Linked DNA regions of Homo sapiens: region 1 is linked to region 2. A link means that fine-mapping ties the variant in region 2 to the expression of a gene that starts in the linked region. Tissue or cell type: unexposed skin. Region 2 holds a variant in brackets; the other region holds the start of a gene. All regions are shown on one strand. Distances are from middle to middle.

Evidence for each region. PIP is the estimated chance that this variant, and not a neighbour inherited with it, causes the effect.
Region 1: it holds the start of ADSS2, and the variant in region 2 is fine-mapped to the expression of ADSS2 in unexposed skin (GTEx, PIP above 0.99).

The regions. Positions count from the first base shown.
Region 1 is chr1:244,448,092-244,456,091 of GRCh38, reverse strand. ADSS2 (adenylosuccinate synthase 2) reads left to right here and starts at 4,183. Exons shown (of 13, transcript NM_001126.5): 1 at 4,183-4,457. The coding sequence starts at 4,275. It also overlaps a transcript of CATSPERE not described here. RefSeq lists silencers at 3,794-4,283, 4,724-5,003.
Region 2 is chr1:244,364,647-244,372,908 of GRCh38, reverse strand. It overlaps SPMIP3 (sperm microtubule inner protein 3), which reads right to left. Exons shown (of 5, transcript NM_001012970.3): 2 at 8,153-8,221. The coding sequence starts at 8,208. Among named protein-coding and RNA genes, the nearest start is that of SPMIP3, 16 kb to the right of the region's middle. The variant G/A (reference allele first, on the strand shown) is at 3,395.

The sequences.
Region 1 (8,000 bases), 83 kb before region 2:
GGGGGCGGGGGGGTGTTTCCATGTCTTCCAGGTGGCCAAAGCATGCTTCTCTGATCCAAGTGTGCGAAGAGCCAAGTATGCCTCCGTAACTACTATTAGCCAACTCCTAAAGTATATTTCCTACCTAGTTGTTATACACCAAAGCTCTCTCAGAATGAGAAGTAATTTCTGATGCCCCTAAAACTCAAAACCGTCAGATAACACAATGCAAAACAGAATAGAGCCTTGGATTTTGAGAGGGATCTGTCTGCTTTTAATTCTTGGGGTTTCATGAGGAAAACAGAGCTTTTTTCCAAAACGGGGTCTGTGGTGCCTCCTGTTTTTCCCAAGGAGTCCCAGGCTACCAGAAGCTATCTCAGGGCCTCTCATGTGTACATTAAGATAGGCAAAACAAAAAAGTGGAGGAAAATAATTCAGTTGACTGAGAAGGAAAAAAAGACCTTTTTCCAGAAAAATAATCTTTTTCCAGAAAAACAAGATCCAAGAAGAGAGAAACATAAAGGCCTTTTAAATATACCTACAGCTTGTTTATCCACTTTTAATTAAGCTGACTTTTAACCATAGCGCTCTTTAAAAAAAAAAAAAAACCCTTAAAAATTTTATACCCAACTTTAGCCACGCCAAGCGGCCAATATTTTTGGCTTTTGAATTCTACCACAGGTAACTTCCCACCTGAAATTAAGTTTTAACTAAGTTTATAACCATGGACACACAGGTGTCTCAAAGAGATGGTAAGCAGTTTTTTTTTCTACAAGATGTAGAATCTCCCCCAGGGTAGTTTAGAGAAAGGAAAATTCAAGACAGGAAATCAGAAGCTATTCATGGGAGCGGGGGGACGCGGGAACCTCAATAAATGGCAAAGTTACAGAAATAAAAAACCAGAAGGGAATCATTCCAGAAGCCAGGAATAGAACCCAGACCCCCCACTGTCAAGAGGCAAAACCTTAGCTACTGAGTTACACAGTATTGAGCAGTTTCTATTGTGCTTCCCAGAAGGAGCCTACAGAAGCCAGTTTCAAGCTTGCAAAGGCTTTTAACTGCTCAAGAAAATTCTTAGGGCTAACCTAAAAATCCCCAAATTCCTGTCTTCTAGATGGTGGAAACCAAGAGAAAGTATCTCCACATGGTCACAAAGTTAAGCTCTTCAGGACACAAAACAAGACAGAGAAATTTCATACAGTATTGGCTTCAGGGACCTGTAGCAAAGTTTGTAACTGACCAGCCTGCCAAGCCGGCTTGAAAAGCAGGCTTATAGGGGTCCTAAACCCACGTTCTATCCTGTGACACCCATCTATCCACTACAGAACACAGAAAGACAAATTCTTAGCACAAAACTACACCAGATTTGCTACAGCCTAAGACTAGTCTCACAAATCCTTTTTTCCATTTATCAAACCCTTGCAGAGGAGGTAAACAGTTTACTATTTACTGAGAAAGAGAGAGAGAGACCACAAACCGGTCCGGTAAGAATTTCATACCCTCTGTGCCGGCATACCAGATTTCCGGGTTCCCTTTCTCTGCAGTTTCCAGAAGAATGGAGTGGCTTTTGATGACCCTGCTTGCTTGTGCTATAGCTGTGGGGTTCAAGCCACTTTACAAGAGAAAATCACCCTTTACTGTTTTATGGAAACATAGACGAGATTCTTAATTTGCAAGATGCTGCCCAGCGGGCTGCATGGGGAACCGAATTAACATTTTCCATCCCAGCAAAACACACATAACAAAACACACATTAGCCACCTCGTTCAGCTCCCAATATCAGCCTGGCAAAGCTCAAAAACTTTTTCTCTTTGGTCCCTGTTGTCTTTGATCCACTCCAGGTGGGGAGGGATGACCTCCGAACGGTAATTCACAATGGGGTCTCTGGGCAAGACGAAGAGCAGATAGTCACCCCGAGACAGGCCTGTTGAGCCTTCTGTAGGGCTCATCAAATGTGACCAGACAAATAAGGAGGGTTTTGAGTTAGGTCTGCTGGACTTCCATCAGCAACCTCTTCTGAGATCCCTTCCACATATACAAACGCACACAAAGACGAGAGGACAGAAGGCGTTCCCAATCAGATCCCTAACCAAGAACTCCGGGAGTATCCCTTCCAAACTATCCTCCTATTCTCCTTCTGAGAAACCTCCTTGAAATCTTCCTGATTCAGGAGAAGTCTCCCAAACCTGGACTCTTCCTACTAGTTAGAAAGAGCCAAATGAGACCCCCCCAGGAGCCGAACAGACACCCTGCAATGGGGCTACAGACACCTCACCATAGGGCTACAGAACCAGTTGGGAGAAAGGAGGCGTTGGCAGCACCTAGGATACTCACCAATCCAGACACCCTGCCCTGCAATGGGGCTACAGACAGACACCCTGTGATAGGGTTACAGTTAAGGGACGTCTCCCCGGGGCTATTTCTCCATTGCAATTAAATCCATGCACACTGGGTTGGCAGCACCCCACCAGTAGAGAGAGTACCAGAGTCAGCCCCCAGTCCAAGAGAACTGGGTGGCCGCTTGGGCAGGCTTCTGGATCCATTGCTGGAGGGGGGCCACTGAACCACGAGTAGGTAGCCACAAAGGCAATGCCAGACAAGCCCCCAAATTTGTAACCGCCCAAGGGGTTCACCTTGTCCACTGCCTAGACAGAGCCAATTCATCAAGACAGGCAAATGGCAATAGAGAAAGAGTAATTCATGTAGAGCTGGCTGTGCAGGAAACCAGAGTTTTATTATTACTCAAATCAGTCTCCCATAAATGATTTTAAAAAATTGAATGGAAATGACTAGTAAGGTGTGCTTATTCAGTATCTACTATCTGCCCAACACTACCTCGGGCATTTGACTAGAAAGAAATAGATGGCATTCTTGTTTCCAAAATGTTTGTGATCTTGTAATAAGGCCAAGATAGACAACAATTATCACATAGTATTATAATTGTTTACTAATCAATAGACCAAATAATTTGAATCCTTGAGGGCTGAATTGTATCTTTATTTCTCCTATGTTATCAGTGCCCAGGACACTTAGTTAGTTAATAGCAGGTTCTCAATGTTCCTGACTTAACTCATTGACTAGAAATAAAATACTAAAGTGTACTCTAGGGACCATTAGTGAACATACAGTATGTACAGGCGATTTGGGAGACGGTACATATAATGTGATTCCATTCCCACTTTTTTTCGAAGCACCTTTTATCAGAATTAAACATCATAGTTAATTTGTGTTGGTGTCGAAAGGGCATTAGATGAACAGTAGGTATACACCAGAATCTAGTTACAAATGTAACTGAGAGACAGTGGAATCTACAGGAAGGACATGGGCTCTGGACTTAGATTATCGAAGTACCAATTCAAGCCTCACTAGGGCAAGTTACCCAGCTTTTAAATCCTGTAAAATAAGGATAATAGAGGATCACCTACCTTATATGGTTGTGGGGATTAAAAAATAAAGAAGTGCATGACGGTATCTGCATATATGTACTATATGCGACATAGGTAATCCACTCCTCCTCTCTGAGCCTTTGTTACTACTATGTAAAATGAGGATTAGGACTTTATTTGATCTATTGATTTCAGGTCTCATGTCCTTTATCTTATTGCCTTACTTTTGAATTTTGTCTTTTTTGATCCCTGTCCCCATCTCTGTTACTTCCGGACTTTTAATTTCCAATTCTACACTTACACGTTCCGATTTTATGCTGTTTGTACTGCGAAATTCCACAGTTTGTATTTTGTACACATTCATTCCTTAATAAAGACAAATCCAGACAAACCTGCAGATGGCAGACACAGTGGCCCCAGAATACACCGCCGCAGCCCAGAGCGTTGCATGCTGGGATTTGTAGTCCGACGCTCCACACGCGCTTCCGCGCCTCTCCAGTTTGAAAGCGAGAGGTAGAGCGGGTAGGCGGGGTGCTGAAGGAGAAGCGCTCTCGAAGCCCCGCCCCTGACCTTTTCCGCTCGCGAGGTTTGCACGGGAGTGGCGCGCCAGGCCGCGGAAGGGGCGTGGCCTCGGTCCGGGGTGGCGGCCGTTGCCGCCACCAGGGCCTCTTCCTGCGGGCGGTGCTGCCGAGGCCGGCCTGCGCGGGGCAGTCATGGTACCCCCTTGAGCGGGCTGTGGCGGAGAGCGGGGCGGGGACTGGCTGGAGGGTGGCGGCCCGGCGGGGCGGGGGCGGGGCCGGCCTCTGGCTCCTTCTTCCTCTGCATGTGGCTGGCGGCCGCAGAGCAGTTCAGTTCGCTCACTCCTCGCCGGCCGCCTCTCCTTCGGGCTCTCCTCGCGTCACTGGAGCCATGGCGTTCGCCGAGACCTACCCGGCGGCATCCTCCCTGCCCAACGGCGATTGCGGCCGCCCCAGGGCGCGGCCCGGAGGAAACCGGGTGACGGTGGTGCTCGGTGCGCAGTGGGGCGACGAAGGCAAAGGGAAGGTGGTGGACCTGCTGGCGCAGGACGCCGACATCGTGTGCCGCTGCCAGGTGAGGCGACGGGGCCTCTCATGGGAAGCCGGGCCCGGGAGCTCGGGCTGCCTGGCTCCTGGTGCCCGGGAACTCGGACCCAGAACCCGGATCCACTGGCCAAAATGAGGTGTCACCTTGAGGCTCTCTCCTCCTGTCCTGAGCTGCGGCTACGTGGAGAAATGGCGGGAGGTCGGGGACCCCTGACCTGGAGCGTCGGGTGAAACTTGGGGTGGCCCTGGAGGAAGAGGTGGGCTGGCGGGGAGCCTTTGAGAGATGCGCGATGCCTGGCAGTTGCAGTTTTGCGTCTGGCGAGTGGTGCTCAGCGCCGGGACTGAGGCCGGGGTGGAGGTGGGATGCGGTCCGAGTTTGAGGAGCTACCGCCCGAGGCCTGCTCCCAACTCTTCCGACTGCGGGCGGAGACCCGGCGCGACGGCAGAACCCCCCATCACCGCCCCCCCGCCCCGCCCAGGGCGGCGGAGTGGGAGTGGATTGTTTCGAAACGTCCTGAAATCAGACTCACCGATCCCCCATCTGCAGGACCGTGGCATGCAGTGCTTTGCTTCCTCTGGTCCACTTTGTTGACATCCAAACCCACCCACCTCTGGGCTTTGGACTGTTGTTTTAGGGCCCTGAGTTTCTTGTTTTTGTTTTTGTTTTTACAGTGTGCTCCATACATGAAAGTTAAGGAGAAATTACTTTTACTAGTTGGTCCCAGAGGAAGGAATCCCTTCTCTGTTCAAAAAAAGTGAGGGAAGTAAATACATGGATGTCAAATTGAGTATTTGGAAATAAATATTTGCATTGTTAAGGTGACATCGAAAGTGAACTTTCGGAAAACGAGGTGGTAATGTACTTCTAACGGGAGACACGTGGTTTTCAGTGTAACCTTTCTTCCTATTTGTCGTTTCCTTTGACGCAGCATACAGGGTAAGGCCTTTGTAAAGGCTCTCAGATAACTCTCTCCAGTTTCAAAATTCTAAGCAGATGAGCAATAACCACTTTCAAAACAAAGCATAATGTAATATTTGAAGTTAACTGCTATCTGTTTAGGTTGCAAGAATATTTGTTTTTGAACATGCATGGCATGATATGATGGTGCCATGCTGTATATGTTCTAGTAAGTTATAGGCCCCCTTGAATACCATTTTGAGCATGCAGAAACAATGAAATCACAGGTATGTTAAAAAGCTAAATGCAAATACTGCAAATATTCTCTGATTTACCTTGTTTCGTTTTGTTTTGTTTTCATTTAGAAATCCACCCTGCCCATTCTGAAATAGCTGTTGCACTAATTGCCTCTTAGGAAACTGTCACTACCACCTCTCCCTCCTTCCCTTCCAGCCTATTATTTCTCCACCCCTCTGGCAACACACTTTGTACCTTAGCAATCTTCAGGGTGTTGCCATTAAATTCCTGCCCCGCACTTTCTTAGGAAATACTCCAGAAATCCAGCCTTTACCTACCTTTTGTCTTACATTCAGATCTGGTCATGCTGTGGGGAAGACGTATCCGAATACCGAGCTTTCTTGCTGTCGACAGCGGGAGAGAGGCTGAGGCCTGTGTGTCTCCTTCACTGACATCTTGACATCTCGTTAATATGGAAATAGCTCAGGTTGAGCTACACTATGGGTTGTAAGAAGGTTTGGAGAACACAACCATTATGGTATTTATTCTAAAGGATCCTCAATTTTAATATTCTATGGAGAAATATTAGAAGTAGTTTGTAGCTTGGAGAAGGTGTTACTAATGTTACCGAGAAAGTAGTCTTGAAGTCATGGACCAACCTGATCTGATGCCCTTGGAAAGGCTAGAGAAGTGATTGAGAAGGAACTAAGTTTGGCTTTAAAATGTTAGCTGAAGATAGTGGAGAAACAAATGAGGGGCCTTGTTGGGCAGACTTCCCTCACCTGTGTATTTTTGACTTAACTACCTTCCTTATAGAATCCTTATGTTCTTTTAGTGCTTTTTAAAAGTGTATCATTAGGATTCTTTATTAGTCTTGTTAGCAAAAAATAGATGAGTAATGAATAGATTTAAGCATTATCTCTTTTGTGATTTACCTTGGTAACTTTGTATTATTTGGTTAGCCCTAGTAAGCTGGCATCTACTTAATGAAGTTCCCCTAGGTTATAAAATTGGAATGTTGAAGTTCTTAGTGAGTGTGTATAGAGAGCTGGAAAAAATCAACAGTAAGACATTGTGAGCTTGGATTGCCTTGTTTGATGTCTTAAGTTTTGTGTGTTAGTGAAAATATGTCCTTTGTTAGAGTTTAATATATTCTGCCATATTTATGTCATGAGTTCAAATTTTATTCAGTACTGTTTCTCCAGAAGTGATGTACACATAATGTATCCGTATTTCACCAGTAGACTCATAAGGACTTTCTCCCAACATAAAATATAGTTTTAAAAAGAAAAACTGGCATTGCATTTAATGATAAATTTTAATGTATAAAATGCCTTTTTGGAAACAATAGATGCAAACCTAGTGGCGTTTTCACTCTTAACAGCGCTTAAGGCCTGTGTTGTTCAGATTCAGGATTTATGGGGAGTTATTTATAACTTGGTAGGTTCCCCAGATCCATAAATATGTAGGACTTGCATCAAAGGACAACCACTACTGCTGCCTTAATTTTAAATCAATATTTATTTTAAGAAGAAGAGAGAAGAATTAAATAGAGGCCCAACCCTGGGTACAGGTCATTCATCTAGTAAACATTGAGTATCTGCAGGGGATCACTTAGCCTGGGAGTCAAAAATCTGAAAAAGGCAGGGATTGTGCCCACAAGGAGCTCACAATCTGGGGGACAACTGCTGTGTAAGCAAAAGTGTTGAGAAGGTCGGGATGGAGAAAGGTACTAGTCTAATACGTTTCTCAAGAGGTTAAAGTATGGGACCAAGAAAGTCCCTTTCTGGCATCACAAAAGGAAGCCTAATACTGTTTTTTCCCCAGTTCTCTCAAAGTAAAATACTGTGCTTTGTTTTCTGTATTTTGCTGAGTAGAAGCTACAGAAACTTCTTAACTATAGTAGTTTATACCAGGCTTTAAGCAAAGGCTTACTTATTTATTGTTCTTGAGGAAAGTAACTTCGGTGGTCTTGGTTATAATGACACACATGAAGTTGCCTGTGATCGGGAAAGGCTAGAGCAGTGTTCCGTGTGTATTCTCTCCAAGGCTTCAAAGTCAATAAAAAGAGAAAATACTAAAGTTAGTCATAAGGGAAAGCACACCCCATCACTTGATATATGTTTATAAAAGCTTGCTATAAAAATAAACATACTGAAAAAATATTACTATTTTCTAGCTAGATACAAGTATCTGCTGAAGATCTGAAACCACTATTAGTGTTAAAGAAGCATAAAAGACATATCAGCAGCAAACTAAAACTTTCTCCTTGAAATAGAAAAGGTGAAAGATAATTTAAAAGAAAATAACGTTAGTATTATTTAATGCCTTGACCTTGTACAGCTAAAATGATCTGCCAGACTACTTCCCATAATTTTAAGGATAGTAGGTAATTAGCATTTAAGGTAAGCCATTCTTCCAGGTTTATAACAATTG
Region 2 (8,262 bases):
CATCTTCAGGCATTGGAAAGAATCCTGCCTTTCCCCAAGAGAGGGAACACAATAAATGGCCATCATTGGGAAGGTGACTTTATTGAGTTTGTGATGCCTGGACATGTGGGGTCTTTCGGGATGTCCCACAGATTCTGAGCAGTCAGTAGATGCCATAAAAATTCAAAGTCAGGAGGCTGGGCTCGCGCCTGTAATCCCAGCACTTTGGGAGGCCAAGGCGGGCGGATCGCAAGGTCAGGAGTTCGAGACCATCCTGGCTAACGCGGTGAAACCCAGTCTCTACTAAAAATACAAAAAATTAGCCAGGTGTGGTGGCGGGCACCTGTAGTCCCAGCTATTTGGGAGGCTGGGGCAGGAGAATGGTGTGAACCTGGAAGGTGGGGCTTGCAGTGAGCTGAGATCGTGCCACTGCACTCCAGCCTGGGGGACAGAGTGAGACTCCATCTCAAAAAAAAAAAAAAAAATTCAGAGTCAGTAGAAAGTAGCACATCATTTTGCATAACGTATCTCACTAAATATGTGTTAGATAATGGATGAAAACTGAAACTATGCCTTCAGTTCGACTCAACCAACATTTATTGAATGCACACAAAACACCCTGCACTATGCTAGGCTCTGCAGATACAAAGCTGACTAAGAAGCAGCGCTTGTCCTCAAAAAGCTCTTCACATGCTGAAATAGTGATCTGAATAAAGGGTCCATAGGACACAGAAGAGGGAGGAGTATCTAGATCTAGGACTCGGATAAGCAAAGGGGTTGGGGAAGAGATTCCAAGCAAAGGGAATTATAGGGGCCAAGACATGGACAGAATTAGGTTCTGAGTGGAGTGTATGAGGGCTAGAGTGGGCCTGACTGTCTAGCATGAAAGGCAAGCACTGAGCAGGGCGAGTTCTGTCTCTGTCTGTGCAAAGACGACCTCTGGGAGCTCTGATTTGCAGAAAAACCACAGGCTGTCTGGGCCTGCCCAGTGGCTGGGATAATATGACTGAGCCCTGGATGGTAAATAACAATGGGGTATTAAGTCATAAGAAGAGAGAGGAACTGGCACAATAAAGGGAACAAATGACATTTCTGAATGCACAGGGGTGGGACACGTAGCTTTCTTAGGCACCTATCCATTTTCTGAAGCACCACCTTGGAATATTACCCCAGGGCCACATTACAGTTTAAGAACCCACCTAAAGGATGCTGGTTTCTACAGTTGCTGGGCTGTGGGCGGTGGGCTGGGTTTTGACCATGGCGTGCATACAAACAAACACCTGCTGAATACAGGTGAGTAAACTCAGCGCTGCTCCTTAGAAGCAGTCAGTAAAAGCTGATTTGAGGATAAAGAATCCCAGCACCAGCACCAAGTAATCCTCCCTGCCACCGCCCCTTGGCAGTGTCTCTTGGCAGGTTTTGGGAGGAGTGAAAAGAAAATGGGAAGGTGTGTGTAAGGAGATGGGTGTGGAGAGAGGGATGGCTGGGTGGAGAAGAGAGTTTTGACCTCCTAAGGGGAAATGTCTAGCCAGGCCAGAGGCTGTGCATTACCCGGCCTCAGTGAATGATTGTGAAAGCACGTGCGGACTCTTCAGACTTGGCTGTGGAGGCCAGCCCAGCTCAGGGCTCTGCTCAGAGTGATTCTGTTGAACCCGGGTTTTAACCAGCTGTAGAAAGCCCTTTCCTTCTCACTGGGCAGGTGCAGGCACCGTGCGTGATTTTGAGTCCCTGATGGCTTGGCTTTTTGAGGTGATGTATTCAGTCCACATGAGAGCAAACCTGTTCCCTGGGAGGGTGGCTGTAAATGGAGTGGGATCTGGGCTTAGCCACAGTCAAAATTCAATATCTATAGGAGAGGCCAGAGGTGTCGGTCCCTCCAGAGCCTGGCCCCACAGCCCCAGGTAGCCTGTGTTCCTGTGACCACGCTCTTCTCTGTTACGGCCCTGCTGGGGCTCATCCTCTACAGAGCATTTTTACAGAAATGATCTCACTTAATCCTCACAGTCACCTTGCAAGGTAAACATGATTAACTCTCTGCTTTATAAGAATAGCCCAAGTCTCAGAAGGGTTAAGTGGACTTTTTAAGTAGTAAAGTCCACTTAAACAAGTAAATGCCAGCGCCGTGTATCAAACCCAGTTCTCCAAACTCCATGTCGCTATTCTGCCACCCGAGGGTATGTGTGATGATTTGTTTTAATAAGAATTCAGTGCTATTTTCATACAAACTCTGTGATTCTCTCATTTTGGGGCAGACAGCAAATAGACATTGTACACTAAAAAATAGGAAAAGCCATAAAGACACAGCAGTGTTAGCTGGAAGATGCTTTTAACTCAACGAAAAGCACTCACTGCAAGCTCTGCTGTGCCTCCAGTGGGCTAGGCACTAGGGATACAGTGATGACAATGTTGTCTTTCCACTCAAGAGTTCATAATCTGGTCAGGAAAGCCACGTTTAGGCAACTATCTAATCACAGACGATGTGGTGAGTGCTACGCCTGATAAGAAACTGAGGCTCAGGGGAAGTAAATAACTTAGCTAAGGACATGAGCTAGTAAGTCCAGAAGACAGAACTAAAGGAAGGACTAGGAAGCCTCCAGACCTGTGCCCTCATCTCCCAGGCTCTGCCGGCTCCACAAGAATCTCCTCAAGGGAGTGGGGAGCCTCAGTTTCCTCATCAGTAAAATGGGAATGATACTGTCTTCTCCTTTAATGATTGCATGAGAGTAAACGAGACATTTGTACTTGGTGGCTAACATCTCCCAAGGTGTTGGTATTGATACAGGAGATGGAAATTATTTAGGCAGATGGAAAGGGCAACAGAGTCCTCGGCGGAATTTCCCTTTTAACAAAAAGCAGCCCCAAAGTCATTTATTTTCTAACAAAGAGTAGCCTGTAAAATCATGCTGCAGACATGAATAAGCAAGCTGGAAACTTGTGTGGGTGAATGCTGGCAGCTGTGCCCATAGAAAAGGGCTACCTGAGGGCCAGCATGTTCAACATGGAGGCGCCATCTTCCCCTTTCTCTGTCACCACGTGTATAGTACAAACAAAAACAGGCAACTGAACGTGACCCGGCTAGGCAGAGAACCCATCTACATAATAAAAGATTAGGGTGGGGCGGCCAGCTTCTTCACGTGCCATGCAAACAGCACACCTAGTCCTAACCAGTTCTTCCCACATTATGCAAACACCACACCTAGTCCTAACCAGTTCTTCTCACGTTATGCAAATGGCACACCTGGTCCAACCAATCTTTCGTGCCCTATGTAAATCAGACACCACCTCCTCAAGCTCGGTTATAAAACCTGCACTTCACCAGGGACCAGAAGACCCACTGCGACTCCCTCTCTCTGTAAGAGAGAGATTTTCTCTTTCTTTAGCCTATTAAACCTCCGCTCTTAACCTCACTCCTTGT[G/A]TGTTCACGTCCTTGATTTCTTTGGCGTGTGGCAATGAACCACGGGTTGTACCCCAGAGAAATGACGCTGCTCCAATATCATCCCACGCAGGATGGGCTGACCACACAGTTGCCTCTGGATCTTCAGAGACTGTTTCGATCAAAGTTTTAAAAGTCTATTTAAATCACACACAAATTCTGTATCTTCGATCTTCTACAACACACTGAATTTAATCCACTTAAAGTGATCTTTTCAGGAGTATCCTGGGTTCCACAAACCAATGCCACACCCAGCCCTTCTCTGAGTGACAGGCCTCCAGCCTGTAGCCAGGGGATGGCACCAGTAAACAGTTGCATATAATATGATTTTTTTTTTTGAGACGGAGTCTGGCTCTGTCGCCAGGCTGGAGTGCAGTGGTGCAATCTTGGCTCACTGCCACCTCTGCCTTCCCAGGTTCAAGCAATTCTCCTGCCTCAGCCTCCCGAGAGGCTGGGACTACAGGTGTGTGCCATCACGCCCTGCTAATTTTTTGTATTTTTAGTAGAGACGGGGTTTTACCATGTTGGCCAGGATGGTCTCAATCTTTTGACCTCATGATCCGCCTGCCTCGCCTGCCATAGTGCTGGGATCACTGGCGTCAGCCACCGCACCCGGCCAATATGATGATGAATACAAGAATTTTATGTGGCCACTACTAAGTGTGAACCATTTAATATTTACTTTTATTTAGTGTCCCAAAACCTCAGTTTTCTGTAGCGTAGCTCTGAGGCTTGGCCATTTAAGGATGAATTGGATACATGCTTGTGCAGAACCACACAAGGGCAGGCTCAGGTGCCATCAGTCACCAGGGGTACACACCACACATAAACGATTGGATAACTTTGCTCACTCATTCATTTCAATATTTTCAACAACCGTGCCTACAGGGCCTACCAGGAATGGTAATCTGCAAGGCAGAGGTCATGATAGTGAGTTGCAGAGAAAGGGAAGTAAGCCCTGCCTGGAGGGCTAACCTGGAGATGTGGCAAAATGCAGTGACCACAAGCACAGACGTGAGTTTAAGTCCCATGTCCGCCAGTCAGTAGCTGTGGGATCTGGGGCAGTCATTTAACCACACCGTGCCTTGGTTTCCTCATATGAAACTCACAGTAGTGAAGGTTAAAGGAGTTCAGATGCACCTAGAACAGTGCTTGGCACAGAGTAAGAGCTTCAGAAGTGTTTACCATTATTATTCCAGGGGGTGAGACAGGCAGGATATAAAGAAACAGATAAAGTAGGCCAGGTGCAGTGGCTCAAGCCTGTAATCCCAGCACTTTGGGAGGCCAAGTTGAGTGGATCATTTGAGGTCAGGAGTTCGAGACCAGCCTGGCCAACATGGTGAAACCTTGTCTCTACTAAAAATAAAAAATTAGCCAGGTGTGGTGGTGGGCGCCTGTAGTCCCAGCACTCGAGAGGCTGAGGCATGAAAATCACTTGAACTCAGGAGGCAGAAGTTGCAGTGAACCAAGATCATACCACTGCACTCCAGCCTGGGTGACAGCGCAAGACTTTGTCTCAAAAAAACAAAAACAAAACAAAACAAAACAAAAAACCAAAAACCTTTCCTTCCTGAAACCCGGATGAGGAGGAAGCAGGGGAGAGAGGAATGGAGTTGGCTCCAGTATTTCCTGATTGTCTCCCCACAGCGTTTGCTCTTTCTGTGTGTGTTTGAGATCTGTTTTGTTCACTGAGAGGCCTATTTAACTGTGGTCTTATCTGGGGAAAATGGAAACAAACCTCCATTGGCCACTCCTGCCTAGTGCTCTGTGGTGTCTGGACCTGGCCGGGAGTCCGGGGGTTTGGGTGGAACTGAGCACAGCAGGCCCTGGGGCCCCTGGAGGCCTAAGGCTGGGCTGTCTTCTGCTCTCTGGGGCTTGTCCTCCGAGCCGCACGTGGGTTGGGGGGCACACTGACGGCTCCGGCTCTTCCTGCACCTGAACTAGTCTTGTTGCCCCCACCCTCCGCCCATAGTGCGCACCGTGAGGCAGCTCTGTGTGCCTCTCCTGACCTGTGGGTCCAATCAGCAAGTCCGTGCATTCCCCCTCCAGGCTGGATCTCCCATGGGACGGCTTCTCCAGCCCACGGCCACCCCTTGGTCCAGCTCACCATTGCCTCCCCCTGCTCTCTGCAATAACCCCCACTCTTGTCCTCAGACAATCTGTTCTCAGAGTGAGCTTCATAAAAGTAAATCGGATCAGGGCCCTCCATTGCATAAAACCCTTCAACCCATTGCATGTATAATAGCATAAAACCCAGACTCACTATTGTAGGCCACAAAGCCCTCCGGGAACTTCTCCTGCCTCTACCGTCCCAACCTTCTCCCAGCTCCAGCCCCTGTGTCATCATGTCATGGCTTCTTTCATGAATCAGGGATTTTGGACCTGCACTTCCTCCTCCCTAGACCGCACCCTTCTCCCACCCCCTGCCCCTATCACCCAGCATCATGCTCGGCTGACAACTGCTGAGAGAGCTGTTCCCTGAACACCCTGGCTAGAGAAGGTATTCTCCTTCTGCCTACCTCTCCACCTGATTATTCTCCCTCACACCCTTTTTCATTTCCTTTATCACAACTTCCAATTATTCTATCTGTTTAGTTTTTCTTTCTTTCTTTTTTTTGAGACAGAGTCTCATTCTGTTGCCCACACTGGAGTGCAGTAGTGCGATCTCGGCTCATCGCAACCTCTGCCTCCTGGGTTCAAGCGATTCTCCTGCCTCAGCTTCCCGAGTAGCTGGGATTCCAGGTGTGTGCCACCACGCCTGGCTAATTTTTGTATTTTTAGTAGAGACAGGGTTTCACCATGTTGGCCAGGCTGGTCTCGAACTCCTGACCTCAAGTGATCCACCCGCCTTGGCCTCCCAAAGTGCTGGGATTACAGGCACGAGCCACTGCATCAGGTCTTAAAAGAAAATTCTTAAGATGTAGCCAGGAAGGACACATCCATCCATTCACTCCTTCTGTAGTTTCTGGAAGAAGGACTTCTCTTTTGTTGACCAAACATGGCTAAAATAACTCAATATTAAAATAAACATGAGGCTGGGTGTTGTGGCTCACACCCATAATCCCACACTTTGTGATACCAAGTGGGAGGACTGCTTGAGGCCAGGAGTTCCAGACAGTCTGGGCAACATAGTGAGACCTGGTCTCTACAAAAAATTTAAAAATTAGCCAGGCAGCTTGTAGCCCTAGCTACTCAGGAGACTAAGGCAGCAGGAAGATCAGTTGAGCCCAGGAGTTTGAAGTTGGACTGAGCTATGATCCAGCCACTTCACTCCAGCCTGGGCAACAGAGCCAGACTTTGTCTCTAATAAATAAATAAAAATAAAATAAACTAAACACGAGGCTTGCTCAAAGCCACAAAGCCAACGGGGCTACAGGAGGCTGACCCCCATGTCATGGTGTGAGGTTGCTGTCACAAATTTATAGCTACTACACTGCTGCAGACCCGTCGAGGTGGTGAAGGGGGAGTGGGGTTAGGATTTACGGACTGTCATCTGATACCAAATTTAGCACAACAAGACAGATCTAGGGCTTGTTATTCTTGTGCCATAGAGGACCTTGAAGAAAGAGCGAAACAGCTCCTTAGTTTCCATCTGTGCCGTCAGCTCTCATCAGAGGAAGCACAGGAGCAGTTTGTTTTCCCACAAGCAGAGTAAAATGGTCCAATCCAAAATGTGGGCTTGGATTGCTCAGACTTCTCACTAAAGCTCTTCCCAAGCAAAAACCAATATCCTTCTGGTCTTTTGGGAATTTGGAGTTGCCTGTTTGCTTGGATTCTGCAGTGAGTGTGAGGCTTCTTTTTCTTACAACTTTCCCTAAACCCAATGTGGAGGCTAGAGCAACTCTATGTTGGATGCTAATTCACCATGTTGGCTTCTGATTAACCCCTTGTATTAGCCCATTTTCATACTGCTATGAAGAAATACCCGAGACTGGGTATTTTATAAAGAAAAAGAGGTTTAATGGACTCACAGTTCCACACGGCTGGGGAGGCCTCACAATCATGGCAGAAGGCAAAGGAGGAGGAAAGGCATGTCTTCCATGGCGGCAGGCAAGAGAGTTTGTTCAGGGGAACTCCCACTTATAAAACCATCAGATCTCGTGAGACTTATTCACTGTCAGGAGAACAGCATGGGAAAACCCCACCCCATGGTTCAGTTACCTCCCACCAGGTCCCTCCCACGACACGTAGGAATTATGGGAGCTACAATTCAAGATGAGATTTGAGTGGAGACACAACCAAATCATATCACCCCAGGCCTCTAAGATTTCCAGTTTCTCTATAGTTCCTGGTGTCAGAGCAGGTACTTACTGTAAGTTCTGCCCTTCGGCCAAACAACATTGGTGTTATCGTACTTCAATTGTCCCATATATCCCTTCTGTATCACTCTTCCCCTATGGTATCTAAATCCTGGGTCTCAGGGGTAATGGCGCAGACATCCACCATCTCATCTCACTGCTACCCGAGACACATATATGGCTTCTGTTCGTAAGTCCCTGTTAAATATTTCTTTGTAAGAAACTGGATTTGTCAGCCTCTTTCTTCGGCGTCTCAGCTTCCTCTGACTTTTGCCGGTAGGTTTGCACAGACCTGCTCATCAGGAAATATCCAAAGAGCTTCCCTAGAACTCCCTGGCAGTAGTCTCTGGACCACTGAGCAGCAGGATGTGCAATTCTAACTCCCCAGGCACCTGGCTGCCTGGCTTCAGTCCCGGAGGCTGTGCATCTGGAAGAACTATACCTTGGCGGGATCACTGGGCGACGCTCAATAAATTCTCGTAGTCGGATGGCAGTCATGATGGATGGGAATCTGAAAAAAAATTATGGCATAAAGGATTATATTGCCAGTTT